2 linked regions of the Homo sapiens genome follow. The protein of the gene in region 1 purifies or fractionates together with the protein of each later gene. This does not show direct contact. Each region holds a gene or a part of one and is shown in the gene's direction. Other genes may lie near its edges. The genes, in order: KCNIP4 and PRR4.

Region 1 (15,802 bases):
ACAATGTTCCTCTTCTTTCTTCCTTCTCAAGTGGTTGATACATGCTTGTCCATTAGGATTTGGAATTGCCATTAGGTTCATCTATGAAAGCTTCCCTAATACCCAAGATTGAATTGAAGGCTTTTCTTATGTGTTCCCACAGCACAGGAATCAGCCCTTTGTGGCATTTGCAATATAGTATAGTGGGTAGCTTCTTGGTGATGAAGCAAGACTGCCTTGTTTGAATCTTGGCTTTGTCACTTTGTAGCTCAATAAGCTTTAACTTAAGCTTTAAGTTCTTTAACCTCTCTGTGCCTCACGGCGATATTAATAGTTCCTGGAGTAGATAGAAAAAATGATCACAAATTCTTCCCTTCTCTGTATCTATCTTGCCTTAGATTTTTCAGGCTGTTATAACAAAATACCACACATTGAGTAGGTCAGAAATAACAGAAATTTAATTCTCACAGTTCTGGAGATTGAAAAGTCCAAGATCAAGGTGCCAGCAGATCCAGTGTCTGGTGAAGATCAGATTTCTAGCTCATAGTTGGTTCCTTCTCGCTGTGTCCTTACATGGTAGAAGGGATGAGCTAGTCCTCTGGTCTTTTTTTATAAGGGCATTAATCCCATTTATGAAGGCAGAGCCCTTATTACCACGTAAACTCACAAAAGACCCCCTTCAAACACCATTACCTTAGGGGTTGGGATTTCAACATATGAATTTGGGGGTATGCAAACACTCAAACTATAGCATATCCCTTTCCAATATGCCATTGTAATTTCCTCCATCAAAGTTAAACTCTTTCTTCCTCCCTTGAATCTGGGCTGGCCTTGTCACTTGCTTTGGCCAATGGGACAGTAACAAATGTGTCCCAGGCAGAGGCTTGCAAAATGCTGTACAATGGCACCTACTCCCTCTTGCTGCTCTTGGGAACTCTGCAGCTACCATCAAATGAAGAAGTACGGGCTAGTCATCTGGATGGTGACAGAGACATGGTCCAGTTGTACCCATTACTCCAACCACTTGCATGACATGTAAGATGACCATATCTCTGCCAGCTGGCCACAGATGCATGAGTGAGCCCAGATGAGCACAGCCTACATTGGCAGACCACAGAATTGTGAGCTAAACCAATAATTATGTTAAGCCATTATGTTTGGGGGAGGTTTCTTATATAGCAAAAACTAACATATGACTCATGGAACATGAATATTGGATAAGTTAACACATACAAAATACATAGAGAGTGCTATATAAGCATTCATTTTTCTTACTAAAGTTGCTTATTTCCCTGTGCAAATCTACCACTAGAATGCTGGCTCCTTGAAGGAAGGGACTCTTTCTTTTCCCCTGTTAACATCTTCCCTACACAGTGCCTGGCTTCTTGACATGTGGTATGAATGATTCAAGATTCTTAGGTTGTTGTCAAAAACCAACAAAGGAAATAAAATATAAATGGCTTCTCATATCAGATGACCTTGTTATCCAGTAGTCTATGATCTTATTTCTTTATATCCACTCCCCTCACCACCACCATCCCTGAGTTCTTATTGACAACTTGAAACCTATGAGACAATAAACAGTTCTATCCATGTGAGTAGAACTGACACAAAAGTGAAACAAGGTTGTCTCACTAGAGTAAAGTGCAGCGAATTGATTGTGATTGTGTCCTTAAAACTGAGTCTGCTTCCATGATTAGGGGTGTATCTTTCATTGCACGTTCCCTAACTCTCCCAAAATCCAAATGTGCTTGTTCTGTAAGCATTCACTCTTCTAACATAGTTGGGTTTTCTCTCTTTGATACCATTTTATCACATCACCTATCTAAAAGACTCTGGACTTTAAAAAATCTAATGGCATTGTGACTTAGAGGGTCTGTCTTTCTTTTCCATTATTTTCTTCATTTGTTGGTGGGCTGTTAACTAACACCTGAATTTGAGTGTCAAGTTCTTCATTTCTTTTGATGTGTATATGTGGCACTTTCACTATTCAAGTCTGACAGACTGTTAGACCGAGTTTTGAATTTTCTAGGCCCAGACTGTGGCATTTTTGTTCGTTTTTTTACCTTACTCTCAAGAAATAGGTTCTCAGTCTTCCCATAATACCGCTAATTTGTATAAAGAATTTTAATTTTACTAATGAATTTTAAAACAAAACAAACATTAATTCCCCAAAGTACCAATATAATGAATAAATCTTAAATATAACAAGATAATTAACTTCCTTATCAACAATATAATATAGTGCTTTGAGCCACACACACATCAGAAATACGTATTTCTCCTATTTCTTTTTTCTTTTCCAAAGACTTAATGTCTTTGAATTTGATATTGGAAGAAAATAGTCATTTAGAATAGTTTTCGGCTATGTCCAACTTTTGGTTAAAAAGAATATTCTAGGCCCGGTGCAGTGGCTCACTCCTATAATCCCAGCACTTTGGAAGGCCGAGGTGGGTGGATCACCTGAGGTCAGGAGTTCAAGACCAGCCTGGCCAAGATGGAGAAACCCTGTCTCTACTAAAAACACAAAAAATTAGCCAGGTGTGGTAGCGGGCACCTGTAATCCCAGCTACTTGGGAGGCTGAGGCAGGAGAATCGCTTGAACCTGGGAGGTGGAGATTGCAGTGAGCAGAGAACGCACCATTGCACTCCAGCCTGGGCAACAAGAGCAAATCTCTGTCTCAAAAAACAACAACAAAAAAGAATATTCTAGAAATTGATTCATTTAGTCATAACAACATCTCTTTTGAACAGTTTTATTCAAACTATTAGCAGACAAACCAGTAAATTCTTACTTTTCAAGGACTGATTTTTAGACTTCATGCAGGAAAATGAGCAATTAAAGAAAATACAGGATTAAAAGGCATAAAGTGATTTGGAATTTAATGAACCTATCTACCAATTATAACATATTCAAGTATAGAACCTAGAGATATGGAATTTAGGTAAAACCTTTTCAGCATTAACCTCATTAATGATATTTAAGTTTTTGCAGAACTATCTGGTTAAACTAAATCTCCATTCTGAAGCGAATCCTCTAATCACCTCTCCTGCTATGTACAGAATGTAGCCAGTGGATTTCCTGAAGTCCACAAGTCAAGGGTCATTGCAATGAAGTGAAATAATAACTTTACATCTGTAATATGGACTTATCCTGCAAGACAAAGTTGCAAGGCAAACCTGACTTTTGATGCTTAGAGACTTACACTTCATTTGGCAGTATTCCAGCTTTTATAAACTTGGCAAACCTTATAGAAGCAAGTGCTGAAAGATGTCAGACGATGAAGGTTTGTGACCTGGGTGCATCCCACGTGCCTTGTGAAAATAAGTCTCTTACTCTCCATGGGCTTCAGTTTCTTCTTCTGCAAAACGGGGGTTATAAAATTTGAGCTGTCAACTTTTCAGAGTTGTAAAGATCAGTTAAGGAACTGAATATAAAAATCCCACAGGAAGGTTGGAATTAACTTGGCAGCTCTAAAATGTTTACCTCATTTTTGTTTCATTATGGCATATTAATATTTCCTTTAATGTTAGGATCTCAAAGAAGATTATTTTACCTGATTATTATAATACAAGAGATTAAGAATCAGAAATAAATTTGCAAGTGTAGTCCGATGATCAAGGTTAGGGATATTTGCTGCTTGAAACCTAATGAGATAATAAGTGATTCTATTCATGTGAGTAGGGCTGACATAAAAATGAAGCTGGATTGTCTCATTAGGGTAAAGTGCAGTGAGCTGATTGTAACACTAGCTTCTTCCTCTGCTCAGTGAGCTCTGCATGGCTCCAAGGGAGCCTAAGGTATATAAGTAAACAAACACAAAGCTGTGCCCAGTGTGCTGTCGAGCAGGACTTCTCATTTTTTTTTTCTTTTTTCTTTTTTTTTTTTTTTAAGGCAGGGTTTTTCACTCTGTTACCCAGGCTGGAGGGCAGTGGTGCCATCGTAGCTCACTGCAGCCTCGACCTCCTGGGCTCAGGCGATCCTCCTCTCTCAGCCTCTTGAGTAGCTGGGTGCCACTACCCACAGGTGTGAGCCACTATGCCTGGCCAATTTTTTTGAATTATTTGTAGAGATGGGGTTTACTATGTTGACCAGACCGGTCTCAAACTCCTGAGCTCAATCAGCCCTCCTGCCTCAGCCTCCCAAAGTGCTGGGATTACAGGCATGAGCTACCACTCCCAGCCTTCTCACATTTTAATGTGCTTACCTGGAACCACCTGAGGATGTTGTTAAAATGATGATAGTGATTAAGGAGGTCTGAGGCAGGGCCCCAGATTCTGAATGCCTGACAAACTCACAGGTGATGTAGATATTGGTGGATTTCAGACCACACTTTCTTGCCTCTAGTGTAGAGTAGTGATATCTCAAAGTATGATCTTAGGGTATGTATTAGTCCGCTCGGGCTACCACAACAAAATACTACAGGCTGTGCGGTTTAAACAACAGAAGTTTACCTTCCCACAGTTCTGCAGGCTGGAAGTCCAAGGTCAAGGTGTCAGTAGAGTTCTATTTACACTGAGGGCTCTCTTCCTGGCTTGCAGACGGCTGCTGTGTCCTCACATGGCCTTTCTTCTGAGTGATTTCTTTTTTTTTCCTCTTCCTCTAAGGCCACCTCTTCCTCTAAGATTAGGCCTTCTATCTAAACTATGGACTTTAGTTAAAAATAATGTATCATTGGCTCAATTGTAAAAATGTACCACACTAATACCAGATGTTAACAACAGGGAAAACTCGAGGAGGGGTTACTGGAGAGAGGGTACATGGGAACTCTGTATGCTCATTTTTTCTTTTGAAAACCAAAAAGTCAAAAGGAAAGGATTACAAAAGGGATCAATGAAATTTCAGTGAGTGGAGGATGTGTTCATTATCTTAACTGTGCTGTAGTTACTTGAATGTATCTGTATGTCAAATCTTATTAAATTGTACACTTTATGTGCGGTTTATTGTATGTCATTTATACTTTAATAAATTTGTTTAAAAAAAACCAAAAAGTGCTCTAAAAGTCTATTAATTACAAAATAAATTACATTCTAAGATCTCCCCACCAAACTCAGTGAATCCATCCACAGGCTGGAGCAGAGGAGTTTTTAATCTGTTTAGATGATTCTTATGCATGTTAAAGTTTAAGAACAATCAAGAAGCAATTGAAAGCTCTAGTGTTTTAATCAGATGAACGTGAGTTCAAATCGCAGCTGCACCTCTTCACAGCTGGCTGTCCTTGGGCTACTTAACCTCTCTGAGTCTCAGTCTCATTTTAAAATCAGGGTAAGAATAAGTATATATGATGATTTTTCTTAGAATTAATTCATACAATGACATAGAGTTTTTAACACAGTGCATAGGTGCATAGTGTAAGTGCTCAGCAATTATGAAATAATAGAAGTTTTACTGTTACTGCCTGAGTTCTGGTGAGCCAGGGAGAATTGTGCCAAAATGTAAGGGGCTTTCAGAGAAGACAAAGCAGTAAAGGTAATAAGCAATAAAAAATCAGGAAATAATAAAAGTAATCCTGGATGCTTCTACAACATTCCATGGTTTATATATAGCTTTCACTTTCATTCCCTGACTTGATCCTGACAATGACCTTGTGAAGCAGAAATTCCCCTTTTTACAGAAGAGGAACTGAAGCTTAGACATGATCAGTGACTTTCCGGAGGACACAGAACTAGGAAATGTCAGAGTCTAGAGCATCGAAATTCTAGTGCAGGGTGACAGTACACTGTAGTAATTAAATATGGGGGCTCTTGAGTCAGACGGTTGGGTTCAAAGCCCAGATATACTGATTACTATTATAAAACTGGCAAACCAGTTCCCTTCTCTGAGGCTTAATTTCTTCACTAGTTAAGTAGAGATAATAACAGTGCTTATCTCCCAGTGCTTTGTAAAGATTAAATGAAATAATGTTCATAAAGTCTGAGATTCATGGCTGGCACATGGTGAGTTTCCTATTTCTGCACTCAATTTTGAATATGGTTCCTTGAGGGAAAAATACACATCCGTGCTATACAGAAAGTAATCTAGGGTTAGTCAGAGAAGGTGGCAATCTTTGTGCATGTGTCTTGAGGTTGGGAAGACGGGCTAGGGTTGCTACAGCCTCGGAGGAGTAATAAGAAGCTGGCACAGCATGCTGTGGCCTATGAAGCTCTTCTCTTTAACTAGTTGAAGTACTTAAAGAGCCAATAAGGAGATGGTACAAGCAAGACAGAGAAATCCTGGACTTTCGGTCCCAAATATCAAAAATGGCGGTAAATGTGGCAGTAAAAAGATAATTATTCTGTGATGTTTGGCAATGACTAAGAATCCGAGTAAAAAGGTCTGGACTTGGGATTTGTAGTAGCTAAACTCCCATACAAATATTTTGGAAATATATTAATATATTAATATTATATATTGATTATATTATATAATACAATATTTATATGTTAATATATTACAAACTTCTTCAGCACAGTGTCTACTTTACACGATTTTGTTGCCTTCTTTATAATTAGTTAAGGGGTAAACGTTTAGTAGGGCCACCATGGGCAGATATTCTTTGGATAAGATTTGAAAGATAGTTTGGTCCAACAAAATGTTCTGCATATTTTGGAGATGAGAAAGGGGTTGTGTATTACTTCCCACACTGTGAGGGAAGGTTGCTTAGACCTGTTGTAGAATATAGTGGTGCCATTTCTTCTTTGAGTTCACCATGACAAAATATGATGATGATAATGGTGATAACTATTACGATGGCAGCTCTTACTGACTCTATGTGCCAGGGGCCATCCTAAACACTTTACATATGCTGCCTCATATAATCTTTCCCAATAGTTAAGTAGACACTATTCTTTTCTTTACTTTTTTTTTTTGAGACAGAGTCTTGCTCTGTTACCCAGGCTGGAGTGCAATGGCATGATCTCGGCTTACTGCAACCTCCGCCTCCCAGGTTCAAGTGATTCTCCTGCCTCAGCCTCTTGAGTAGCTGGGATTACAGGCATGCATCACCACACCTGGCTAATTTTTGTATTATTAGTAGAGTTGGGGTTTCACCATGTTGGCCAGGCTGGTCTCGAACTCCTGACCTCAGGTGATCCGCTCACCTCGGCCTCCCAAAGTGCTGGGATTACAGGCATGAGCCACCTTGCCCGGCTGACACTATTATTTTCTTCATTTTAGAGTGAGAAAACTGAGGGAGGTTATTAGTCCTCAAACATACAGCTTGTTCACAGTTGGAACTGGAATTCCAACCCAGGCTGCAGAATCCAAACCAGCATGCTCAGGTAGCTTTAGAAGTCATCATATAGAAGACAAAATTTGGAGTTGGACAAGTATTAGTGATTCAAAGTTGTGGGTGGTTTCTGGAAAGAGTGTTAGCTACAGAAAAAGAGAAAGAAGTAGTTGGTCAGTAAGTTGGAAGTTTGCTAGGAGAAGTCTGCAGAAGAGGGAGAAGGTGGCACGCGACAGAATCGAATGATTGAATCTGATAGAATGGGCAGCGAGAAGACTTGTTATGAGGAAGCTGGCAAGTGGGAAGAATGCATTGGCTGTAAAAGTATGCAGACAAAATTCAATAAACATTTACACTGCACATGATCCCATCCTCTCTGACTCTCTCTCCTGTTACCCTTTCCTTCTCTCAATGTACTTCAGCCCTGTCAACCTCCTGGCTGCCCTGCAAACATGCTATTCTTATGTTAGCTCTTGCTCTTCTCTCTGCTTGGAAGTTCTTTTTCCCTTGAGATGCCCATGGCTAGCTCCTCGCTTTCATCAGGATTCCAATTAAATGTTGCCTCTTTCATAAAGCCCTTATGGACCCCCTATATAAAAGTGATCTCCCTAGCAGATCACTTCTGATTCCTTGATTTATTGTCAGTCTCTCTGCCTTCTAGATAGTCAGCCAATAACTGAGGGTCTTTGTTGTATTCACTGTGGTATCCCAGTGCCTATAATTGTGTCTTGTACACAGTAGTTACTAGATGTTTGCTGAATAATGAAAAAACAAATGTTTAGTGAAGACCAACTATGTGCAAGGAACTTTTCTAATTGCTTTGTCAATATAACATTGTTCTCAACTTCAAGAATCAGGGTTGCCTGTCTTTATACAGTGATTGCTACATGCCAGTCACGGCTCTAAGCCCTTTGCATCTATTGATTTTCTTAAATCCTCACAACAAAACAATAATGTAGGTACCAGTTATAGCTGATATTTGTACCAGGCCACAGGATTATGAAGTAGTGGAACTAGGATTTGAACCCAGACAATGGGGTGTCAGCATCTGTCTCCTTAACAATGAACTAAAAGAGTAAAAGGCTCTCAAGAAATATACAAATACATGCTACAAGGGCTCAAAGGACTAAGTAAATCGCTCGTGCGTTTGGGGGTGGGGAGAAGGGCAATAAGGTGTCAATTGAGACCTACTTGGAGAAAGGGGGAAGATTTCACTTGGTGACAGTGTGTATAAATAATCCAGCAGCCATAGGGAAGGCAAATAGTTTCACAAACACTTAGAAATGGCTTCCACCCAAGTCATGGCCAACTGACCTTGCAGCTGAGAGTGAGAGGGAATTTTAATTCAGTTTGCCTGGAGAACGGGTCAACTTGACCTTTCTTCTGAAAAGAGAGGCTTCATGCACTTGACTCTTGGGGACACAGAAATCTGCATTTTAATTTTGACTTCTCAAACAGTAACCATGGCCACAAGTGGTCTATTGGTTTCTCTTTACCTTCCCAACTATTCCCGGCCTTACTGTGCTTTAGAAGGGCAAATGACCTTGCGGGTGGTGAGCGATACCTCCTGGTTGACCTGCCTGGGAGATCTCAAATGAAACCCCCCACATGGATGCTTCTCCAAAATGCCACCAGTCTATGCCACCCCCTCTCTCCAAGGTGGTATTCTGCACCTCGGCCCTGCGATGTTCACCTGGAGTCTAGAGCCAGTGTTTCCCCACACTTAGCCGAGTCGCATGACCGGTTCTAGCTTCAATGGGGGAAAGTTTCCCGTCTAGGAGTTCTGGCGCTCTGCCCGGCTCCGGAGAAGGGCATCTCCTTGCGCTTCCTCTCTGGTGTCCTTCGAACTCAGCCTAACTTTGTGCAGCAGTATTTCCAGTCTAGCTGTCCAAGTTGGAGCCCCTGGGGGACGCAGCGGCGCGTTGAGAAGGCGCGGCGCCTTCGAGCCCCTCCCCAGAGCAGGCGCTGCTCGCAGTGACAAGGGGTCCTAGAGGCGCCCGCTGAGAGCCGCTGGCAACTCCCGGGGGTGTCCTGCCCAGCCCGAAGTCACCTCGGGTCTCTTTCGGGTCCATCTACTCTGTCGCCAGAGGCACCGTGCCACCCGCGGCGCTTTCCTCTCCCCGCACCCCGCCCCCCGCATCCCCAGTCCGGTGACTTGGCAGCAGGTGGCAGGGGCGGCGCTCACGAGGGCGAGGGGCTGGGGTCCCCGCACTCGAGCCGCCCGTGCAGCCCGCCCGCTTCCAGCCGCCGGCGCGAAGCTGCCGGCGCCTCGGCCTCCCCCGCCACCCCGCGCGCCCCCGCCGCCAAGGGCCGCGCAGCGCCCCCGGCGCCCCCCGCCGGCCTCCGCCCGCACCTGCAGCCCGCTCCGCGCGCCCTGCCCGCAGCCGCCGCCGAAGCTCTCGCTCCCAGCGCCACGGACGCCCCCGGGCCGAGCGGCGGTGCGCTCCCGTGCAGACCCGTGGACAGACGCCCCTGGCCGGTGGACTCTCGAGTCTCGCTTCTGCACCCTGCGTCCCTAGACATGAATGTGAGGAGGGTGGAAAGCATTTCGGCTCAGCTGGAGGAGGCCAGCTCTACAGGCGGTAGGATGCAATAAGCTTGCGAGCGGGCGCCCGCTTCCGCCCTCCTTCCCTCGCGAGCCAAGACGGCTGCCCCTTCCCTTCCTCGGCTGGGGACGCTTGTTGCCTTCGCTGCATGAGACACAGTCACCTGGCGGGACTGGGAAGGGGAGGTGGGAGCGGCAGGAATGGGGTGCAAAGGAGAGGGGGGTGCATGCAAGATCCAGGTCGGGGAAGAAAAGATGTTTGAAGTGTGTTTGAAACTCGCCGGTGGCAGGGTCCCCTGCGATCCTGTGCGTACTTTTGCCTTCTCTGAAAATTTCCGAGGTTGTTTATGCATCTGCCAGATGACTCCAGACCGCACGCTTCCTTCCCCTAACACCTGGGGATTAATGAGCTGAAATAGTATTGATCCTCGCCTTCCACTTTTCCTTCATGCCCCCACACGTTTCTTCATTACAACTGTATTTTTGTCCCCTGGTAATATACTGGCGGCATCTTGCCCATGTCAGATTCTAAAGCAGGAGCGTATGGCTTGTTTTATGGCTAGCTTCAGTTTAGTGTGTTCAGAGAAAATGGTCCTCAGTGACACTTGCAAATAATTTATATACAGTACAGCCTTGTTAAGGTATCGGGCACTGTGTTAGGAGCTTGGCTTTCAGAGAAACGTGCGTTCTGCGAAAGCAGGGAGAAATGTTTTGCTGTTTGGTGGGATCCATAGAGAAATAGGAGACGATGCCCTTCCACAAAGCGTCTTGGGTTGCATCGATTTGTTATTAGGTGGTTTTGATGTGTACAGAGTATTTTACAGGAGCCGGAAAGAGAATGGAAGTGATTTTGGGGCACATGAGAGTGATAAAGGGCTGGACCTCTCCCTGATTACATAAGCTAAGGGGTCACATATGGCTATAGCATAGTTTGGGTTTAGAGGGTGAAAAACTTGGACTCGAGGGCTGTAAACTTGCAAGCAAAGAGGTGTTTCCACTTGCTGCCTTCTTTAGTACTCAGGGAAATGGAGTCACCTCAACAACTTGAGTCAATCATTCGAATTTATGGCCATGAGAAATGGAAATGGACACCCTCCCTTTCTTTTCCTCACTCCAATAGTTAAGGTCATCGTAACCGGGAGGACACTAGTCTCACTTGAATATGAAATTTTAAAGAGAACAGTCTTAATCCTTTTGGACTGGAAAAAATAATATGAACATCACCTGTAAAGCCCCACATTTGACTTGTAACTGTGTTTAGTTCTGTTTTCACTTATGCCTGGAGATGCCCACTCATTACGAGCCAAGCATAAGTAGATTATCTCTTGTGAGAAATGCTTACAATCTTTAAGAGATCAAATGTTTCCTGAGTGGCGTGTTTAATGTAGAGGGCTGAGTAGTTTTGGGGTGTTGAGTTGAGTTCGTAGGGTCTCTGTCTTTGCAGTTCTTTAGAATAAACAGGGTAGAGGGCTAGCGCTGTCCTATTAGAGACACATTCACACACGGCAGCCCAGGGAACTCAAGGCTGGAGCAGATGGCAGGAATGTCGTCTCAGGATCTGGATGGCTTGCATTGCTTGGCTCCTCAGTGACCACAGCTCTTTGACTGTACCTGTTCTTCCATCAACCGGATGGGGATTGAATCAGCATGTCTAGACTATGCACAGGGTCATGGGTGGCCATAATCACTATAAATGGGAAATGAAGATGAAGTCACACCTGGGGAGTACTATACATTTAAAAAAGCAAACCTTTTACTGCTATCTCCAGAATCAGCATGTGTTCACTGTTTATTTAGAGAACAGAAATATGTTGTTTTATACCTTGGCTAAGGTGAGACCAAAGTGATGAGTTTTCTGGCTGAGAATTGATTTGACACCTGTTTCTTGAATTGTATTCACAAATTTTTAGTTAGTTGTCATATGATGAGAAGAATAAAGAAAAAAATAGTTTGGATTATCTTTTTTATTCTTGTTGATATTGCTTCAAAGCTAATATTAGAGAATGATCCCCAAATATGTAATACTATTTTCACCAAACATATGCATAAGTACTTTGCTTACTTGTGATCAGATATAGGATGGTCTTTACTAATCCTGGGATGAGAAGGGATGATTTTTAAAGGCTTAAACTCTGTCTTCCATTTTTGTTTTAAAATAATAGTCCCGATCTCTTGTTCTCTTTCCAATAAGTAGGCTATTTATATAACTCCCAAACTATCTTGTACTATGATACAGTTTTTCCTTGAATATATATCTCTGGAATGGAGGTTTATAAGATGATTTAGCTGGAATCTAAGCAAAATTTAACTGGAAGATCTAACTGAGAGAAATGTAGGTGGATGATAGAGAAATCAAGAATTAGAGAAGTGTGAGTCTGTGTGCGTACGTGTATGTATTTTATGACCTGACTTAGAGATAGAACACTGTGAAAAATGGTTTGCTGAAAGGCAAAGGATGAAACTACATGAATGGAAAGTAGAGAGGAAATGTTGGAAATGACAGAACAGAGTCGAGTTGCAATTCTGAAACTTTATAATAATTTAGTTTAAAAAGTTCGTTCCGTACTCTCTTCTCAACAAGTAAACGCATCTAGTATGCTAACTGATGAACACCACCTGTAAATCACTGTAATTGACATTGTTAATGCCAGAGAGGACAGAAAATGGGTGAGTTGTGCATAAGTACATACAAGTAGAGAAGGTTTCTTACAAATTAGAGTGCTCACTTTTGCCCTGCCAGCTTCCATGTTAAACCCAAAGCCTGACCAAAATACATTTTTCATTTCATTGTCTAATCCCATATTTTGCACTCCTGCTATAAAATCAGAACGTAATCCTGCTAACAGTGGAGAGACTGAGGGAGATGATAATTCAACTATGTTTGAAAGAGAATCAGAAACAAGGTCAGAGGAAAAAAAAAACTACAAAATTATTCATTGGTGTCCTTAATTTGTGCCATCTAACTTAGAGATGGCAGATGTTATGTGATGTAATCTACAACTAAAAATGAGGAAAATGTATGTTTCAATAGTAGAGTAAAAAAATGTCTTCAATTTTGAATTGCCATTTGATGGATGTATCGTGGCTTTGGCTTAAGTTTCATGTGTTTTAAAAATAAGGCAAACTCAAATTAGTAATTCCACAAGGGTAATATTGAAAAATCCATTTATTCTGAATCCATGAAAAGCTTTTCATCATACAATCATTATTTTATTTTCTTTATGTCATATAAATGTAAGAGGTGTACTAAACAAATGATAGGACAAAGTGTTGAAATTCAGCCACCCTCTCTCCCCAGGCCTGAAGCTTATGCCCTCTCATAAAATAAAGCTGTGGATGGTTTGGAAATTAATGAGCCATGCAATATAAAATCTGTGTGCAAGATTTCTGGAGAATTGTAGGCCAGGTAGTGGTTGATTGTTTTGAAGATATATTTCTGGGCTTAAATTATTAAGCCCTTCTTACTATTTTTTGTCCTTTTATTTATTTTTCGTGTTCTCACTTTTTCCAGAACATGTGAATAATATTGCTTTTCAATAATACATAACAGAATGTGTTTTTTTACTTAATAGCCTCTCTTCTTAGCGACTATTTCAAGTAGATTAACGTGTGAGGCAGGGAGGGGGTTGTGGGGAGATGAGTATTTTGTTTGTTCAAGGATCCTTTGCAAGTCTGAAAAATCTTTCAAAATTATATAACTGCACCCATTATTATAAATTAATTTACCCTTGGGCATTGAAGCACCCATTTCATTCCAAAAGTATTCATTTGGTTAAAGGTCCTGAGGGACTTTTCTCAATTCGTGTCGTCCTGAACTCACTGGGATGTTTCATGCTGTTTACCAACATGTGTTGGAAGACTGTGAGCTCTGTGAGAGCAGAAGTATTCTGTCCTGTCCACCACTTTATCCCCAGTATTGAGCATGAAGTCTGACTTGTAATATTTGCTCAACAACAGATATTGAATGAATGAAGCCTTTCCCACTTGCACTGAATTATTCTCCTTTCTCTGATTTCTCTCAGATCTCTCTTTTTTTTTTTTTTTTTTTTTTGAGACGGAGTCTCATTCTGTTGCCCAGGGTGGAGTGCAGTGGCGTGACCTTGGCTCGCTGCAATCTCTGCCTCTTGGGTTCAAGCATTTCTCCTGCCTCAGCCTCCCGAGTAGCCAGGATCACGGGTGCACCCGCCACCATGCCCGACTAATTTTTTTTTTCTTTTTGTATTTTTAGTAGAGATGGCGTTTCACCACGTTGGTCAGGCTGGTTTTGAACTCCTGACCTCAAGTGATCCTCCTGCCTCGGCCTCCCAAAGTGCTAGGATTACAGGCGTGAGCTACCGCGCCCAGCCAGATCTCCTTTTATGACACTTATTTCCTCTTTTTGCCCATTTTGTGCAGCCTTTCACATGGTTGTCTTTTAATTATCTTCTCCCTCTATACTCTCTTCCTAATCAAAGTGTGGCTTTGATTCTTATTTTGATGGGGAGTTATCTCTTGAGTGTATAGTCTGCTCCATTCCTCTTCTGCTCGTCAGACTCATAAGAAAGTTTTACCAGCACCTTAAAGTCAGTATGTCTAAAAAGACATGCTCTATCTTCTGAAAACAATTATCGTGGCAACATTTTTTGAGGCATGTTGTTAAAAAAAAAAAAAAGCAAGAGTCTCCTTCTCTATGGTATTCTCATCATGATGAATAAGTCACCAAGACTTGTTGGTTCTTTCTGTATTTTATATCTGTCTCTTCCTTCAATTTCCATTTCTACCACCAAGATTATGTTCTCAGCATCCTTTCTAGGCCATGAGGGTTACATCCTATTTGCACTAACTGCTTCTCCCCACTCAAAACCAACTAAATTTACTGAAACCTAACTTGAGTCATAGATTCTCCTGCACAAAATCTTTTAATGCCCCCCTCCATTACTTATAGAATCAAAAATACAAATTCCTTAGCTTGATTTTCAAGGCTCCTACGAAAATCATGACGCAGCTGGGTCTACACCTTGATCTGGCTAAACTGAACTGTTCCCTGGTCTCCAAACATATCTCCTTTTTTCTTTCTTTCTTTTCTTTTGAATCAGAGTCTCACTCTGTTGCCCAGGCTGGAGTGCAGTGGTGCCATTATGGGTCACTGCAGCCTCGAACTCCTGGCCTCAAGCAATCCTCCTGCCTCAGCCTCCTGAGTAGCTGGGACCATAACCAGCTATATCTCCTGTTTTACCCACTGCTTAGAATTAACTTCCTGCCCTCACATTGCCTGGTGAAAATCTGTATATCCATCAAGACACATCTGAAATGTAGTGTCCTTCTCTTGCGGGCTTACTGATTTCTCCCTGACTCCTCCCCAAATAATTATTCTTTGAATTTTCATAAGTTGTTTTTCTTTTATTGTTGATATAGATCTGAATGACAAGGCAGAATTCACTGGACATAATTTGTCTCATTTGCAGATGTTCTGTTGACTTTTTGATGGCAAGTAGTACCATGCAAGAATTACTAATTTTTGTACCTCTAGTAAGCACTTCTACAATGCTTCACAAACTAGTAGACATTTAGACCAGGAATGGTGGCTCACACTTGTAATCTCAGCACTTTGGGAGGCCGAGGCTGGCAGATCGCCTGAGGTCAGGAGTTTGAGACCAGCCTGGCCAACATGATGAAACCCGTTCTCTACTAGAAATACAAAAATTAGCTGGGCGTGGTGGCAGACACCTGTAATCCCAGCTACTTGGGAGGCTGAGGCAGGGAGAATCGCTTGAACCCAGGAGGCAGAGGTTGCAGTGAGCCTAGATCGCACCATTGCACTCCTGCCTGGGCAACAGAGTGAGACTCTGTCTCAAAAACAAAACATAACAAAACAAAACAAAAAACTAGTAGATATTTAAACATATTGATTGAATTAAATCACGTTGTCCCATGGTAGACCCACCAAAGACCAAAGTTACAATTCACATTTGATTGCATGTTAAGCCATTGGCTGAAAGTGACTTTTGGCTCCATGTCTTTCCATTCAGTGGACTGAGTTTATGAGCACAGTACATGACATCAAGATAATGCTCCTTTGAACTGTGAATGT
Region 2 (15,962 bases), on another chromosome or scaffold:
GTTATTCAAGGCCCAAGTGCTCTTTAATCAGCAGGTGATTGGTTCTTTCATTACTTGGCTCTTCCTTTCAATGCAGTAGGTTTCCTTCCAGCCCAGTGTGTGTCTAGAAATGTCATCTGGGAGCTAGAGTCTGAAATCAGGGCTTCATGACTCTGACCAGAGCTCTATCCTACTGAGGCTAAGCTGGTATCCAAGATGCCAGACAAAGTCCTCCTCACTCTTCCTTCTCCTCTCCTCATGTGGAAGGAAGTGGTCTCTTTTGGAGCCATAAGCTGTGTAGCTGGGGGTTGAGGGAGGGATGGCCCAAGTACTGCTTTAGCCACCCCAGCTGATGTTTCAGTAGGTCATGTACCCACCGCCCCCACCAGTCTACTTGCCCTGAGCCCAGCTGAGCACTAGGACTCACCTAGGATTTGTAGTCCTTGTGGCCTAGACTGCCTTTCAAATTTATTTAGAGACCCAGACTACTTTAGCCTACAGTGACAAGGCTTGCCAGAACTCAAGTTCTGGCTGCTGGAATGTACAGTTCTCTTCTGGCTAGGGCTGGTCTATATGCTCCCTCTGTGGGTGGACATCAGCTGAGTTCACCCCGGTTTTGCCTTCCATTGTCACAAGGCAGCACTGATTTCAATGCGAAGTTTCAAAATCACCACACTTTCCCTCCCCAAGTCTACAGATTCTCCATTCTATGTAGTTGCTGCTGGGTTAAGACAAGGGTGGCGATGGCAATTCAAGACTGTCTTTCCTACCCTCTTCAGTACCTCTTTCAGTAATATGAAGTTAAAAGCAGGTACTTTGAGTGATCACCTGATTTTTGGTTCTTATGGAAGTGCTTTGATTATGTAGGCAGTTGTTAAATTTGGTGTTCCTGTGGGTGGGATGATTGGTGGAGCCTTCTATTCCACCATATTGCTCTGCCACTTCTATAGTGTTTTTCTCTTTGACTTTTGACAGTTTGAGTATAATGTGACATGAAGAAAATATTTTTGGGTTGTATCTATCTAAGCTTCCTGTATCTAGGTGTTTAACTCTCTTGCTAGACTTGAGAGGTTTTCTTCTATTATTTCATTATATAGGTTTTTTATGTTTTTGCCTTTCATTTTGCCTTTGGGAAAAACCCAAATTCAAAAATTTGGTTGCTTTATGGCATCCCATATGTCATGTAGGATTTGTTCATCTTTTTCACATTTTATCCCTCTTTTTTTGTCTGACTGGGTTATTTAAAATATTTGTTTTCAAGTTCTGATATTCTTTCTTCTCACTGACCTATTCTATTTTTGAAGCTTTCAGATGTATTTTTCTTTCATTTATTGATTTATTTATCTCCAGCGTTTCTGTTTGATTCTTTTTTATGATATCCATTTCATTGTTGAATTTCTCTTTAATATCCTGAAATGGTTTTCTGGTTTCTTTCTATTTTTTACCTGTGTTCTCTTCTATCTCACTGAGCTCCATTAGTATCATTTTTTAAATATTTTCCCCAACATTACATAAATTTCTTTTTCATTGGAATCTACTGCTGGAGGAGTATTGTGTTGATTTGGAGGTGTCATATTTTCTTGCTTTTTCATGTTTCCTGTGTCCTTACATTGATGTCTGCGCATCTGGTGAAATAGTTGCTTCTTCTGTTTTTTAAATTGGCTTTCATAGGGGAAGATTTTTGTATCAGTCCATTCTCACATTGCTATAAAGAAATACCTGAGAGTGAGTAATTTATTTTTCAAAAAAAGGTTTAATTGGCTCATGGTTCCGCAGGCTGTACAGGAAGCATAGAAGCATATGCTTCTGGGGAAACCTTAAGGAGCTTTTACTTGTGGCAAAAGGCAAAGCTGGAGCAGGAGTCTTACATGGCAGGATCAGGACCAAGTGGGGGCGAGATGCAACACACTTTTAAACAACAAGATCTCATGAGAACTTACTCACCATCATGAGAACAGCAGTGAGAGAATAGTACTAAACCAGTTATGAAGAATCTGCCCTCATGATCCAGTCACCTCCCAACATGCCAGTCTTCCCCAACACTGGGGATTACAATTCAACATGAGATTTGGGTGGGGACACAGATCCAAACCATGTCATTCAGCCCATCACTACTCCCAAATCTCATGTCCTTCTCACATTTCAAAATACAATCATGCCTTCCCAAGAGTCCCCCAAAGTCTTAAATCATTTCAGCATTAGCTCAAAAGTCGAAAGTCCAAAGGCTGATCTCAGACAAGGCTAGTCTCTTTCACCTATGAGCCTGTAAATTCAAAAAACAGTTACTTCCAAGATACAAGGGGAGTACAAGCATTGGGTAAACACTCCTGTTCCAAAAAAGAGAAAGCTGTAAAAAGAAAGGGGCTACAGACCCCATGCAAATCTGAAACCAGCAGGGAAGTCATTAAATCTTAAAGCTGCAAAATAACCTCATTTGACTTTCTATGTTTCACAACCAGGCATACTGATGGAAGGGGTGGGTTCCCAAGGCCTTTTCAGTTCCACCCCTGTAGCTTTGCAGGGTTCATTTCCCACAGCTTCTCTCAAGGGCTGACATTGAGTGCCTGCAGCTTTTCCAGGTGCATGGTGCAAGCTGCCAGAGGATCTGTCATTCTGGGGTCTGCATGATGACAGCTCTCTTCTCACAGCTCCACTAGGCAGTGCCCCAGTGGGGACTCTGTGTAGGGGTTCCAACTCCACATTTTCCCTTTGCACTGCCCTAGTAGAGGTTCTCTGTGAGGGCACTGCCTCTGCAGCAGGCTTCTGCCTGGACATTTAGGCTTTTCTGTAGATCCTCTGAAATCAAAAGAGAGGCTCCCAAACCTCAACTCTTGCACTCTGCACACTCACAGACTTAACACCACATGGAAGCTGCCAAAGCTTATGGCTGGCATCCTCTGAAGCAGCAGCCCAAGTTGCAGCTGGACCCCTTTGAGCCACAGCTGGAGCTGGAGCAGCTGGGATGCAGGAAACAGTGTTTGGAGGCTGTGCAGGTCAGTGGGGCCCTGCGCCTGGACCAGGAAACCATTCTGCCCTCCTAGGACTCCAGGCCTGTGATGTGGGTGTGGCTACGAAAGTCTCTGAAATGCCTTCAATGTCTTTCTCCCATTGTCTTGGCTGTTAACATTTGGTTATTCTTTACTCATGCAAATTTCTGCAGCTAGGGTAAATTCTTCTCTAGAAAATGGGAATTTTTTTTCTACCACATGGCCAGGCTGCAAGTTTTCCAAACTTTTACACTCTGCTTCCCTTTTTAATACAAATTTGAGTTTTAGCTCATTTCTTTGCTTAGGCATATGAGCTTAGGTTGTTAGAAGCAGCCAGGTCATATTTTGAACACTTTGCTGCTTAGAAATTTCTTCCACCAGATACCCTAAATCATCACTCACAAGTTCAAAGTTCCACAAGTCCCTAAAGGAGGGGAACAATGCACCCAGGCTCTGTGCTAAAGCATAACAAAAGTGACTGCTCCAGTTGTTCCCAATAAGTTCCTTATTTTTATCTGAGATCTCCTCAGCCCAGACTTCATTTTCCATATCAGTATTAGCATTTTGGTCACAATTTACAAGTTTTTAGGAAGTTCCAAATTTTCCCTTATCTTCCTGTCTTCTGAGTCCTCCAAACTCTTCTAACCTCTGCTCATTACCCATCTCCAAAATCGCTTCCACATTTTTAGTATCTTTATAGCAATGCCCTACTCTTCGGTACCAATTTTCTGTATCAGTTCATTCTCACATTGCTATAAAGAAGTACCTGAGAGTGGGTAATTTATGAAGAAAAGAGGTTTAATTGGCTCACAGTTTCATAGGTTGTACAGGAAGCATAGTGACATCTGCTTCTGGGGAGGCCTCAGGGAGCTTTTGCTCATGGCAAATGGCAAAGCAGGAGCAGGCATCTTACATAGCAGGAGAAGGACTGGGTGGGGGGGAGGTGACACACACTTTTAAACAAGCAAATCTCATGAGAACTCACTCATTGTCATAAGAATAGTACGCAGGGGATGGTGCTAAACCATTCATGAAGGATCCACCCCCATGATCCAATTACCTCCAATGAAGCCCCTCCCCCAACATTGGAGATTATAATTCAACATGAGATTTGGGCAGTGACATAGATCCAAAACATTAACTTTTCTTTCTGAAGATGTATCTGTGGTGTTGATTCAGTAGGACACTTTGGCTTTGATTCTGTGTGTGTACAGTAAGGTGGTCTTATATTATTCCTTCAGCTATTAACAGCATAAGTGGTGTCTGTGACTTCCTCAGTGGCTTAGGCTGTAGTTGTGATTGGAGGCTGTAGTGAGGTTTTCCTGGGGACAGAGATTTTAGGTGGGCCAGTTCTTGGGCCCCAGTAGGGGTAACAGTGGGCTGAGAGTGCCTATATTTGGCACCTAGGCAACATATGTTTGTACCAGTTTTAGCAGCTTTAAGCAGAACAATTCTGGGGGCTTTAAGTAGCTTACCTGGGTACTAGCAGTTGCAATGGTAGGCTGAAAGGGTGGGTGGGCCTTTAGGCCTCTGGGAATGTGCTTGCCATGGGCAATTTCTGTAGCTTGGTTGGACAACCCTCAGATTCTCAAGTTGCAAGCTCTGGTGTTAGAGGTGGTTGTGATGGGCTGGGGGCCAGTCTCCAGACCTTCAGATGTTGCATGCATATTGTTTCTGGCTACAGTGCTACTGTCAGGCTGGTTGGGCCCATTCTCAGTCCTCCTAAAGGAATGTGCAAATGCCAGTGGTGGTGGACAAAGCAGGATGATTGCCACACCCCTGGGTAGTGTGCCTGGGCACTGGGATGATGGAACCAGGCTTGGCAGGCCTGTCCTCAGTCCCCCTAGTTATGTACATGGATGTTGGCTGTGGTAAGTTGGATGGGGTAATCCTTGGATCTCCCAATAGCAGGAGCAATACCTGAAGAAAGCCTGTCCTCGAGGCACATGCAAATTTGCTGCAGCTGTGCTGCTAGGGCAGGGTGTGGTTATTGTCAGTGGCAGCAGCCACTAGCAGGCAGCTCTCTGGCAATGTGGAGCACACTTTGGCTTCTGGCAGCAGCATAAGCCAGTCCTCAGGGTACGTGCAAGTTCACAGTGGCTCTGCTGCTGGTGGAAGTCAGGTCACTGCCAGTGGCACATGCTCTGGCCCCCAGCTGCATCAGCAGACTCAGCAGCAGATGGAGAGGGCCTGTCCCCAGGTTGCATGCAAGTGTGCAGCATCTCTGCTGCTGTGTTGCGGGGGTGACATTGCTGTCTGTGTCAGCAGCCACAGGGAGGCAGCTCTCTGGTTCTGGAAAGCATGTGCTTTGGCTCCCTATGTCTGGTTCACAGCCTTTCCAGTGCCTGAGGTGCAGAACACTGCATATGCTAGAATGCTGAGGATCCTGCCACTTTGCTGGGTCCAACTGGCATTTCACTGCTGCAGCCCCCGGTGGTGACAGCAGCAACTGTGCCACCAGCAGCAGTGGGAAGAGCCTTTTCTCAAGGTGTGTGCACTTACATGCACTGCTGTCTTCCTGCTGGGTGGGCGGGTTGCTGTCAGTGCTCACAGGTGTAGCAGGGCCATCCATCTCTGCAGAGTCCCATCTGAGGAGGCAGGGTCACTGCAGGACCAATTATTAGACCATGCACAAACTCAGAGTTGTTGTGGCCCAAGCAGGCTGTAGTCCTGGGGGTGGGCCCACCACAGGACCAGTTTTCAGGCTGGGCACCAGCATGCACAGGCTCAGCAGACTAGCTGGTTGTGAGGTGTGGGTGCATGTGGGTGTCGTGGCTAGTAGGCAGATGGGTGGCTTCCCTGCTGTTCACTTCTTCCCTGGATTGGTGGTGCACCACATGGGTTCGGATGCCGGGGTCTTGATTAGTTTATCTGGCTAGGCTCTGGGAAGCTAGGGTCATGGTGCTGCAGATACCTGTATGAATGTGTTGGAATGATGGTGGGGCCTCAAGTGATAGAGAGCCAGGTGCTACTGATGCTCAAAGCAAGACACACTCTCTATGTAGGTTCAGTTTGGAGATGGCACTGAGCCATAGCACCTTACATTGCAGGGGCAGAGGGTGCTCAAGGTGGTCTCTTACTATGTAAGGCAATGCAGTTTGGAAATCCCAACTGCTCTCCAGACTGGTTTTTGTGCCAGTGAGAACAGTGGGGCAAAGATTGTTGACATTTTTTATGGCAATGTGGACCACTGGGGAACTACAGCTTACTTTTTCCTGTAGAATGGAGTTACTGATGACCCTGAGCCAACCTTGACTGAAGAGAGAGTATGTCAGAGGCAGGATGCTATATTGAGTTTCTGTACTTCACAGAGGTGTTTCTGTTCCCCTGGTGGTCTCCAGCATACTTTTTAAATCACACTGGCTGACATAAAATTGTTTGTTTTCTTGATTTCTTTTTGTGGGGAAATGAGTGCCAGGGAACTCTAGTCAGCCATCTTGCTGATGTTCTAAATTCTATTTTTAAAAGATCACTCTGGCTGTTGTAAGGAGAACTGCTTGGGATGTGGTGAGGGGCAGGAATGTCACCAAGATCAGCTGGAGACTGTTGAAAGTCCTCCAGGAGGGAGAATCATGGCTTGACTCAGGACCTTCTGATAGAGATTATGAAACTGATCATATATGGGATATCTTTTGAAGGTAGAACCAATTGGATTTGCTAAGGGCAGTACACGGAGGAGACTAAACAATCAAGAGTGACACTTATGTTTTTGAATGGTTGAGTGAAACAAATGTCATGAACTGAGAAAAGATTGTGAGGTGTTATCAGCTAAATTGTGTTCCCTCCAAACTCTCATGTTGAATCCCTTACCCCCGATACCACTGAATGTGACTCTATTTGCAGCATGGCCTTTAAAGAGGTGATTAGGTTAAAATGAAGCTGATAGGGTTGGTGCTAATCCCATCTGACACCTGTCCTCATAAGAAAAGAACATTAGCACAGACCACAGAGGGGTACCAGGGATGCACGTCTACAGATAAAACCCCATGTGAAGATACAGCAAGAACCGGCCATCTAGAAGTGAAGGAGACAGGGCCTCAGAAGACACCAAACCTGTTGACACCTTAATCTTGTACTTCAAGCTCCAGAACTATGAGAAAGTAAATTTCTGTTGTTTAAGCCACTTGTGGGGCATTTTTTTAGGGTAGCCATAACAAATTAGTATGAAGGAGAGCAGGTTTTAGGAAGTAGAAATCAAGAATTATATTAGGGGTATGTTAAGTTTTCATCTGTTGTAAAAGGCAAGTGGATTGCTGAGAGTGTCCACTCACCTACAAGTGCCTAAGCTCCTGCTGCAGTCCTGCTTCTCGATTTGACCCCACCCTCACTCACTGACAGTGTCTGTTTCAGCTCCTCCGTCACCTCTGTTGTGGTTGTGTGTGGTGAGATCATAGCTGATGTTTATTATTTCCTGATACATTAATCTCTTTCTCTCATTGCTTACACTGGAGAATGTCAGGGTAAGGGTCTGAGCTGAGTGATATTTGCAGGCATCACCTGTTGTCTTCCTGCACTCACCAGCCAAGGAGAAGCCTGCCTTCCACCAGGACTGCAGTTTCCTCAGCCACCCACACAGTGAATCATGTCTGCATGGCACGCCCCTCTGCTCCTTCTCGCTGACCTTCCTTTCCTACCTGATGGTCTACCATAAGCCACCTAGGCAGAACTACTTATCTCCACTTCCCATGTTAAACAGTGTCTGGTGAAATCAGAGGCAGCAATCCTAGTAACACAGCTGGGTCTGTAGGCCCAAACAACTACTCTCTCTCACCCATAAAACCCTAAAGCACAGCTAGAACTCTTCTGCTTCCCACATAGAGAAGAATTGCTAACTCATAATATATTTCACCTTCAAAATATGTCCATAATTATGCCAGAGAAAATATTTATTTTTTGGTCACTTTGCCAAAGTAAAGTTATCCATAACAAACACCATTGATTAGAAAATCTTCCTGTAATATTACCTCCAACCCTTCAGAATTGCCAGACCAGACCTTCATCTGCACAGCACAGGATCCACTTATCCACAATGGTCAAGAGGCCTGTCTTTAAGATTTCCAGTCACATTCCCCCGACCCTGTCATACTTCCAACCAAGCTATCCTCAAATTATCACCAGCCCTGTACAAAAATGTAACAATAATACGAGACCTATACAATGCCTGTAATGAAAAGTGGCAGCTGGTGATACTGATTGATCTAGGGGTTCCATGAAAATATAAGCAGAAAACTACTAGATAGGACAGAAAAATCAGCAGGTGAAGATTAAGCTACCAACTCAGGACCCTACCAAACTTTTCAGAAACACAAAACCTTGGTGCCAAATTTTAAAAACAAAAAAGAAGAAAGCAAGCAAAGAGAAGTACAGAACCTTGTTTAGAAAATCAAATAAAGATTTCTCCCAGAACGCATGAAGAAAGCAGTAAGATATAAAACATAGACATAGGGAGGATTGATTCACAATATAACATATCAACAAGTAAGGTTCAGCACAAGAGTGAAGAAGAATGAGTATAAGAATATTGCAGAGAAAATAATCTTTGGTAAAGGCAATCTGAGAAGCAAATAGAATGGAAACTAATTAAAAAATAGAAAATCAATGTAATACTTGAGGCTTTCAACAGGCTATCATACTATCTAATTAGATTGTATTATTGTGTCCACTCAATAACCAGTGTGATTAAAATATTTGGTACAAGAAGTAAGACCTAAACTGAATCATATAGAACATTCTAGAAAAGAGAAAGATCATGGAAGAAGTCTTAGGGACATAAAATAGCATGGCTTGTTCAAGGAACTGTGTATTCACACTGTTCTGATGCAGAAATCTAATGGTGCTTTCTGTGGCCAATTTTGCCTTACTAACCTCCAGGGTATTAATAAAGATAGAATGTTTTAATACCTGTGTTCTACAACAATAAAGTATCTCTGGTTAATGCTAGATTAGGAGAATCTTAATCTCTTTGGGCCAGAGTAGCCTGAGGGTAAAACTTCTGTCATCCACGTGTGCCCAAGTGTGTGTTGTCCTCACACAACTCAACATTAAACAGAAATGATCTCTATATTATTATGAAATTAAGCTACATATCATCCATATAGGTATATATGCTATAAAAATGGAATTTATGCTACACTAATAGCTAGAGATATTAATCATTTTCACTTCTGGCTATAAGATCACTGCTGACAAACATATACAAACGTAAGCACGTGTGCACACAGACAACCAATGAAGGGGAAAGACTAACTGTCTAACCCAATTGAAAATCAAATGATGACCAAACTTCAATTGTAGTATTTGTGCTGATTGCTTGGATACTGTTTCTTCAGAAACTATGCTCAAGTCACAGTTTGTACCTAACCACATCCTACCACCACATCCTGCTGGGCTAAAATCCCAAAAAGTAATAAGAGACGCATTCAACTTTATGAGAGGAAAGCAAAACCTAATCTTTCAGGTGGTGAGGTCCACCCAGTATGGAGCTCAAAGGTGCCATTGTTCTGCTCATGTTTATAAAGGGAGCTGCCATGTTTCTCTCAACGCAGAGTTGGGAGCAACTCCAGAGCCTCCTTCAAGATGCTGCTGGTCCTGCTCTCAGTGGTCCTTCTGGCTCTGAGCTCAGCTCAGAGCACAGATAATGGTAAAAAAATTATTTTTTTAAAAAAGGAGATGGGGAGTGGGATGAGGGGCCATGACTCTTCTAGGGCCTCAGGGGTTCACCCTACACCACTGCAGCGGAAGAGCAGGAGGGGAGGAAGGAGGTTGAGAAGAAGGGTAGGGCTTTGGAGCTCTCATTCCAAGGATGACATCTGTTGTGCCCTCATTCCATGCCAAGGCCTTATACTTTATTTGATATACACTTGGAACCCAATAGAGAATTTCAATTAGAGGAATGACAAAGTAAGATTTGTATTTTTAGAAAGACCTGGCTGTGCTGTGAAGGATGCAGTGGAGAATGCAAGACTGATCCAGGGAAGTCCAGCTATGAAGATGCTACAGTAATCTCAGTGGACAGCGATGATGGTGTCCTTGCTGTACAGGGGATGCAGAATCAATGAAAGAGATAAACAAACATCAGAGTACTGTCAGACATAGAGGACTGGATAATACATTTGTGTCTTTCTACATAGTGGTATAGAAATATCAGGTCCCCAAATTCCCATTTTTCTTCCAATCACATTTAAAATTTCAATATGTTGCAGGCAGCATGTGTAAGATTATATCCAAATATTTACTCCTGGTTGCTCCTCTTGGGCAAGCTTGTGAATATGATCAAAATATTTAAAGAAGGAAGAAGGTAAAGATCTAAAATATGACATGAAAATACCCAGAGAAGTGTGCCTAAATTAGCATTAGGGTTTGAGGGATCCTAAGGATGACAAAAAGGGACTCTTCTATTGAATTCGTGGTTGATGCTCAGCGATAGTAACAATCCTGCCTCCCCTAACATCTTCCTCCCCTTCCAGCAGCTTCACAGAACATGGTTGATGAGGTAACTTAGGGGATGCACAGGGTGTGGCCAGAAGACCCCTTTCCCTATAGACCACTATGAGCCCTGAAAGATTTATGAGGTAATGTTCACTTCATCCTGTGCTTCTTTTCCTAGATGTGAACTATGAAGACTTTACTTTCACCATACCAGGTAAATCCCAATGATCCTCAATCCAATTCTTTTCTTTCTTTTTCCACTAGAATTTCTTTTTAGTTTCCTTCAGTGTCTTCTTCTCATCATTTTTTTGGGAGGAGGTGGTAAGAGGGGTCAGGCATTGATTAATATTAGTGCCCCTAAATATATAGGCAATTCTTACCCATCTTTGATTCTGGGGACCATGAGCCAGGCCACCAACTTGAATACAGAGATGCCTGGCTTTGAGGACAATAGGAGTGGGCAGGCTTTTTTCCCAGGCTGGAATGACTGCTGAGAGATGATGAACAAATGAGAAGTGTTCTCATTCTGACTCCTCCATCCTTAACTGCTTCTTTCTTCCCCCAGTGTTCCCCCGCACGGTTATGTGGCTTCAGGGAGTAACACAAAACAAAACAAAAAAATCACTGCATGAATGTCTTTTCTCTGTGTTGACCCACTCAGCTGTGTCACTACAGATGATAAATAGTTGCCACAGCTGTTTAGTGATCATGTGCAGGCTTTCACATTGTCTTTCTCTTCTGTCTCTTAGTATTTCTCTACTTGGTTCCAGGAGCCTGGGAAATCAGCTCTAGTTTCCACATAGGGCTTAGGTGCCCAGAGATGGAGTCACAGTTTGTAAGTCATTACAGCAACCAAAAAATAAAAATAAAAAATAACCAGTAACATAACTGAAAGCTATAATGCTTTTGCTTTTTTTTTTTTTTCTGTCCTTGGAGACATCCTCTGGCAACTCTAAGATATGCAAGAACCCCTCTTTTCATTTAAGGAAACATACTTGTCACAGGAGCAAATAAATGAGACTTTCCATATCACTCTTACATGGATTAAGTTGAGAGCTGCATAAAAAGAAAAAAAAAACAGTGGGCACAAAAGAAGTTGACAGTCAAGCAGCAGGTTTGGGGAGAACAGGGCTGTGTGGTAAGGTGAGAGAAGTATAAAGAGAGGAGAGTTTTTCTTCACTGAGCTCATGCATTCTTGTCCATTAATTACTCACACAGATGTAGAGGACTCAAGTCAGAGACCAGATCAGGGACCCCAGAGACCTCCTCCTGAAGGACTCCTACCTAGACCCCCTGGTGATAGTGGTAACCAAGATGATGGTCCTCAGCAGAGACCACCAAAACCAGGAGGCCATCACCGCCATCCTCCCCCACCTCCTTTTCAAAATCAGCAACGACCACCCCGACGAGGACACCGTCAACTCTCTCTACCCCGATTTCCTTCTGTCAGCCTGCAGGAAGCATCATCATTCTTCCAGAGGGACAGACCAGCAAGACATCCCCAGGAGCAACCACTCTGGTAATCTAGAATTCAGTGGCAGGTATGATTCCAGTTCATTCTCCATTAAATGCCCAAACTGCTACCATTCCCAAACTTTATCGTGTTCACAAATCAATTGGAAATATGTTGAAATTACATAATCCTGGACCCCATTTCTAAAGATTTGTATTCAGATATTCTTGGATAAGGTTGCAAGTCCTTGTATTTTTAACAAGTGGTTCAAAGAATTCTTATCTTTTGAAATACTGACCTCCCCAACTTTTTTCTTAAGATGACTTGTCTCATTAAAATGAGTTGGTAATGAGGAAGTGGGGTGTGCTCTCCCTTTGGTGCTCTGCCTCCTGTCTTTGAGTCTGCCTTCTCAAACCCAAGGACTCTCCATCTCAGGTTTCTCTCAGGTTTCCGCCAGAGGACTCTTTGCTCAGTCCTGCCTCACACTAGCCTCTCAGGTCCAGTGTCCCTGCTAAATGATACTTGAACTTGATGCTCTTATATCTTATTTAATTTTTAAAATACTTATTTTGAAATTAGTACATGCTCAAGGAAAAAAAAATCTAACTGAACAGAATGGTATGAAGCTAAATCTTAAAGTGACGCCTTATCCTACTTACCCACACCCTTCACCAAAAGTCACCACCCTTAATTTTTTGAACATCCTCCTGGAAATATTTATATGTATATAAGCATACGTCATTATTTTTCCCACAAATGACATATTATTTTATATGCAGATCTGTATTTGCTTATTTCAAATAATACATGTCTTAGACAACTTTATCATTTCACGGAGACCTATAGATCTTCTTGGTGATTTATTTGTACATTTTTCTTTTGTTGTTACAATTGTATACTATTCTCTTGTGTGACTGTACCATGATTTCCTCAGTCAACCACTGTTAATTGATATGTAGGCTTGTATTAGTTTTTCACTACTACAGGTTCAAGTTGCAGTCATTTTCATAAATATAACCTTGAATGTTTTGAACAGTAACCAAAACATAAACACCATAAAAAAATCTGTTTTCTTAATCTTGAAAGCAATAATTTACTTCAGTAATATCATCAAGGAATTAGATAAGTTTTGCCATGTTGTATGTTGTGTATAAATTTCCTTGGTTTTTTTTTTTGTTTCAGAAAATAAATAAGAAGATAACTTCCTTCAGAAAGCCATGACATTGAAATAATGTGGTCATAACTCTTTCTTCAGTATACCAATAAAATATTAATAGCATGCAATTTCTGATTGTTGCTTCTCTTTGTGGGTGTTTCTGAGTCTAGAATTTGAGGGCCATTAATACAATCTAAGAATATCTGGGACTCTTGCTCATTGATGCTTCCAGCAGGCTTCCCTCCTCCTTTATCTTAATAAAGCCAGCTGCCAAGGAGAAAGAGTTCCATTGTTCCCCTTCTGTCCTAGATTGCATAGCACAAATGCAAATTCTTAAAATTATTTTTACATCTTTCATTGATATTCTTGTAACTCTAGGAAAACAAGGAATATATAACAAATGAGAGGGAGTTGCAAGTGCTGGGGAATTCTTAAAATTTCCAAAACTATTAATCCTGGTTTCTAGGGGCATAAATGTAGTTCTAGATCTCTTCTCTATAAAACTCACTATGCTCTTTTCTCCTCTTTTTTCATTGCTCAGCTCTCTTCCTCCCTAAGTCGTTCACCATTCTTTTTAAAAACTTGAGTGGATTTCATAAAGGGTGCAGCATAATGTACTTTAAAGGGCAAGAAATTTGAGTAAAACTCTGTTCTGATTGTAAAAATTCCAGCAATATCAGTATTATTGTCAGATAATATAGACTACCAAATTTAACTCAAGTTGCTGAGGCAAAGTTGAATAGAAAATAACCCTAAGAAGCAAAAGAATTTGATATGTAACTGTCTCCAGCTACCTCTCATTATCACCTCCAATGTCGCTGAATACAGAAAATTTTAATATCTAATCTTTATCATTAAAAAGCACATAATTCTTTTTTAGATTTTTTAAGTACAGGAAACAACAAGTTTCTGAATTCATTCTGAGTTTCATTAAACAAAATATATAGGACAGCAAGGATACTCTGTTAGGGAAACTATTCAATAGTACATAAACAAACGAACAGTATGCTAAAAGAATAATAAACCACGTTGAAAGAGGATGAGGATGTTAAAGATGGTTCAATATTAGAAAATTGGCCACACCATATCTGATTTTGATGATATTTAGATAAGACTTTGGATTTAGATTTTAAAGTGGATGCTGGAATGAGTTAAGACTTTGGGATTTGGGAGATGAAATAAATGTACTTAGTATGTGAGAAGACCATATATTTCGGGGGATGACCAGGGACAGAATGCTATAGTTTGAATGTTTATGTCTCTACAAAATAAATTTATGTTGAAACTTAATTCCCTATGCAATAGTATTAAGAGATGGAGTCTTTGGGGGAAGTGACTAAGTCGTGTGGACTCTGCTTTCATGAATGGGATCAATTTCCCTACAAAAAGAAGCTCCCAAAGGCTGCTGAGCTGTTCCATCTCTTTTGACATGTAGGGACTCAATGTTCATGTTTCTTTCATACTTCTGCCTCATGAGAGAGAAGCCAGGAGAAATTGTCTGTTTGGAATGGGCTCTCACTCAACCCCAAATCTGGTACCATCTCAATCTTCAACTTTCCAGCCTCCAGAGCTATGACAAATCCATTTATATTATTTATAAATTACCCAAGATAAGATATTTTGTTAATAGCAGCTCGAACTGGCTAAGGCAGAGGGCTACTTACAAGAATTAAATGCATAATATATATAAAATTACCTTATAAAATGTATATAAAATTACCCTACAAGATGTATATAAAATTACACGATTTAAGTCTTGTAAAATGCAACATGTATACAAAATTACCCTACATGACATACAACAATAAAAGTTCAATACATTTAAATTTATTTATTCTTTTATTAAAAAAGACTCGTTTTGTTCTTTCTAATAATGAATTACCTTCTAATAATAAATTATCTTTCTAATAATGAATTAACTTCTAATAATGAATTATCTAAAAAATAGATTATTTGATAAACACTTGCTTTCTTTAGCATTAAAGCCATTCAAAAAAGAAGCAGAAAGGCCATCTAAAAGGTATGTTGATGAACAAACGCACTGTTGCATGTCATCAGGTGGCTGGTTAACGTGAATAAAAACTAAGTCTCCTTCCTCATTTAAATTCCAATGATTCTGCTCCTTAACATTTAATATTCAGCCTATTCTCTACCTATACAGAGAGTAATGCCACCTGTAGGTCTATCGTTGCTCAGTTGTTATCTGAGAAGTAAAGCCCAGTTCCTCTTGAAAAGGCAGAGAATTTAGACAGAAATTCACCAACTGCTTTCTTACAGAAAGTAAACCAATTTCTGCTTCCAGAAAAATGGAGTAAATGTATTTTGCCCTATTCCTTCTACTAAGAAAAACTATAAACCCTGAACATTATATATAAAATATATGAAAACTCAGACCTGGAGAGACCAAGGCAGATGTGGTAGGGACTTAATAAATTGTATAGTGATGAATCCTCTAAGTTTTCTTTTCTGCTTTATAATTTGCAGACTTTTAGCTGAAAATGCCATCAACATAGAAATACTAACAGGCACATATGAGAATTTCCCAACAAAAGCCTATTATTTTAGGCAAAGGTCAAGGAAATAGTCTACCAAGGCAGAAAACATTTCGACAATAACCACTCTACTGTAGTCAAGTACCACAGAAAACACTATTACCTCAAGTGAAGAGCTTAGATCTTTAGATCTTCATACCAGCCAGGCTGTGACAAGGTGTCCCAACCCTCCTCCAGAATAGTATCTCAGAATAGCAGAAGTTGGAACTTTCATCCCCAACTTGTGGTAATAAGCCCCTCACTCTCCTTCCACACCTTGATATGACTGGAGAGCAAATGGGGAGCTGGATCTACTCTAAAAGCAGCAATGAAGAAGCACCCTCCTTTCCATACCAGGTGGTGCTTGTGGAGGCCATGTGGGAAACAGTAACAAGTCACTTCTTCCTCCGAGACAGGCTATCAGTGGA

What was found.
Region 2: the proteins of KCNIP4 (region 1) and PRR4 purify together in Homo sapiens (affinity purification with mass spectrometry; 2 studies listed by BioGRID and IntAct, with this or other methods). This does not show direct contact.

The regions. Positions count from the first base shown.
Region 1 is NC_000004.12:21,942,538-21,958,339, reverse strand, and holds the start of KCNIP4 (Kv channel-interacting protein 4), read left to right. Parts: upstream 1-9,567; 5' UTR 9,568-9,708; coding exon 9,709-9,769; intron 9,770-15,802.
Region 2 is NC_000012.12:10,843,018-10,858,979, reverse strand, and holds PRR4 (proline-rich protein 4 isoform 2 precursor), read left to right. Parts: upstream 1-9,504; 5' UTR 9,505-9,542; coding exon 9,543-9,606; intron 9,607-10,572; coding exon 10,573-10,608; intron 10,609-11,612; coding exon 11,613-11,917; coding exon of another isoform or gene 11,918-11,935; intron 11,936-13,029; coding exon of another isoform or gene 13,030-13,036; 3' UTR 13,037-13,131; downstream 13,132-15,962.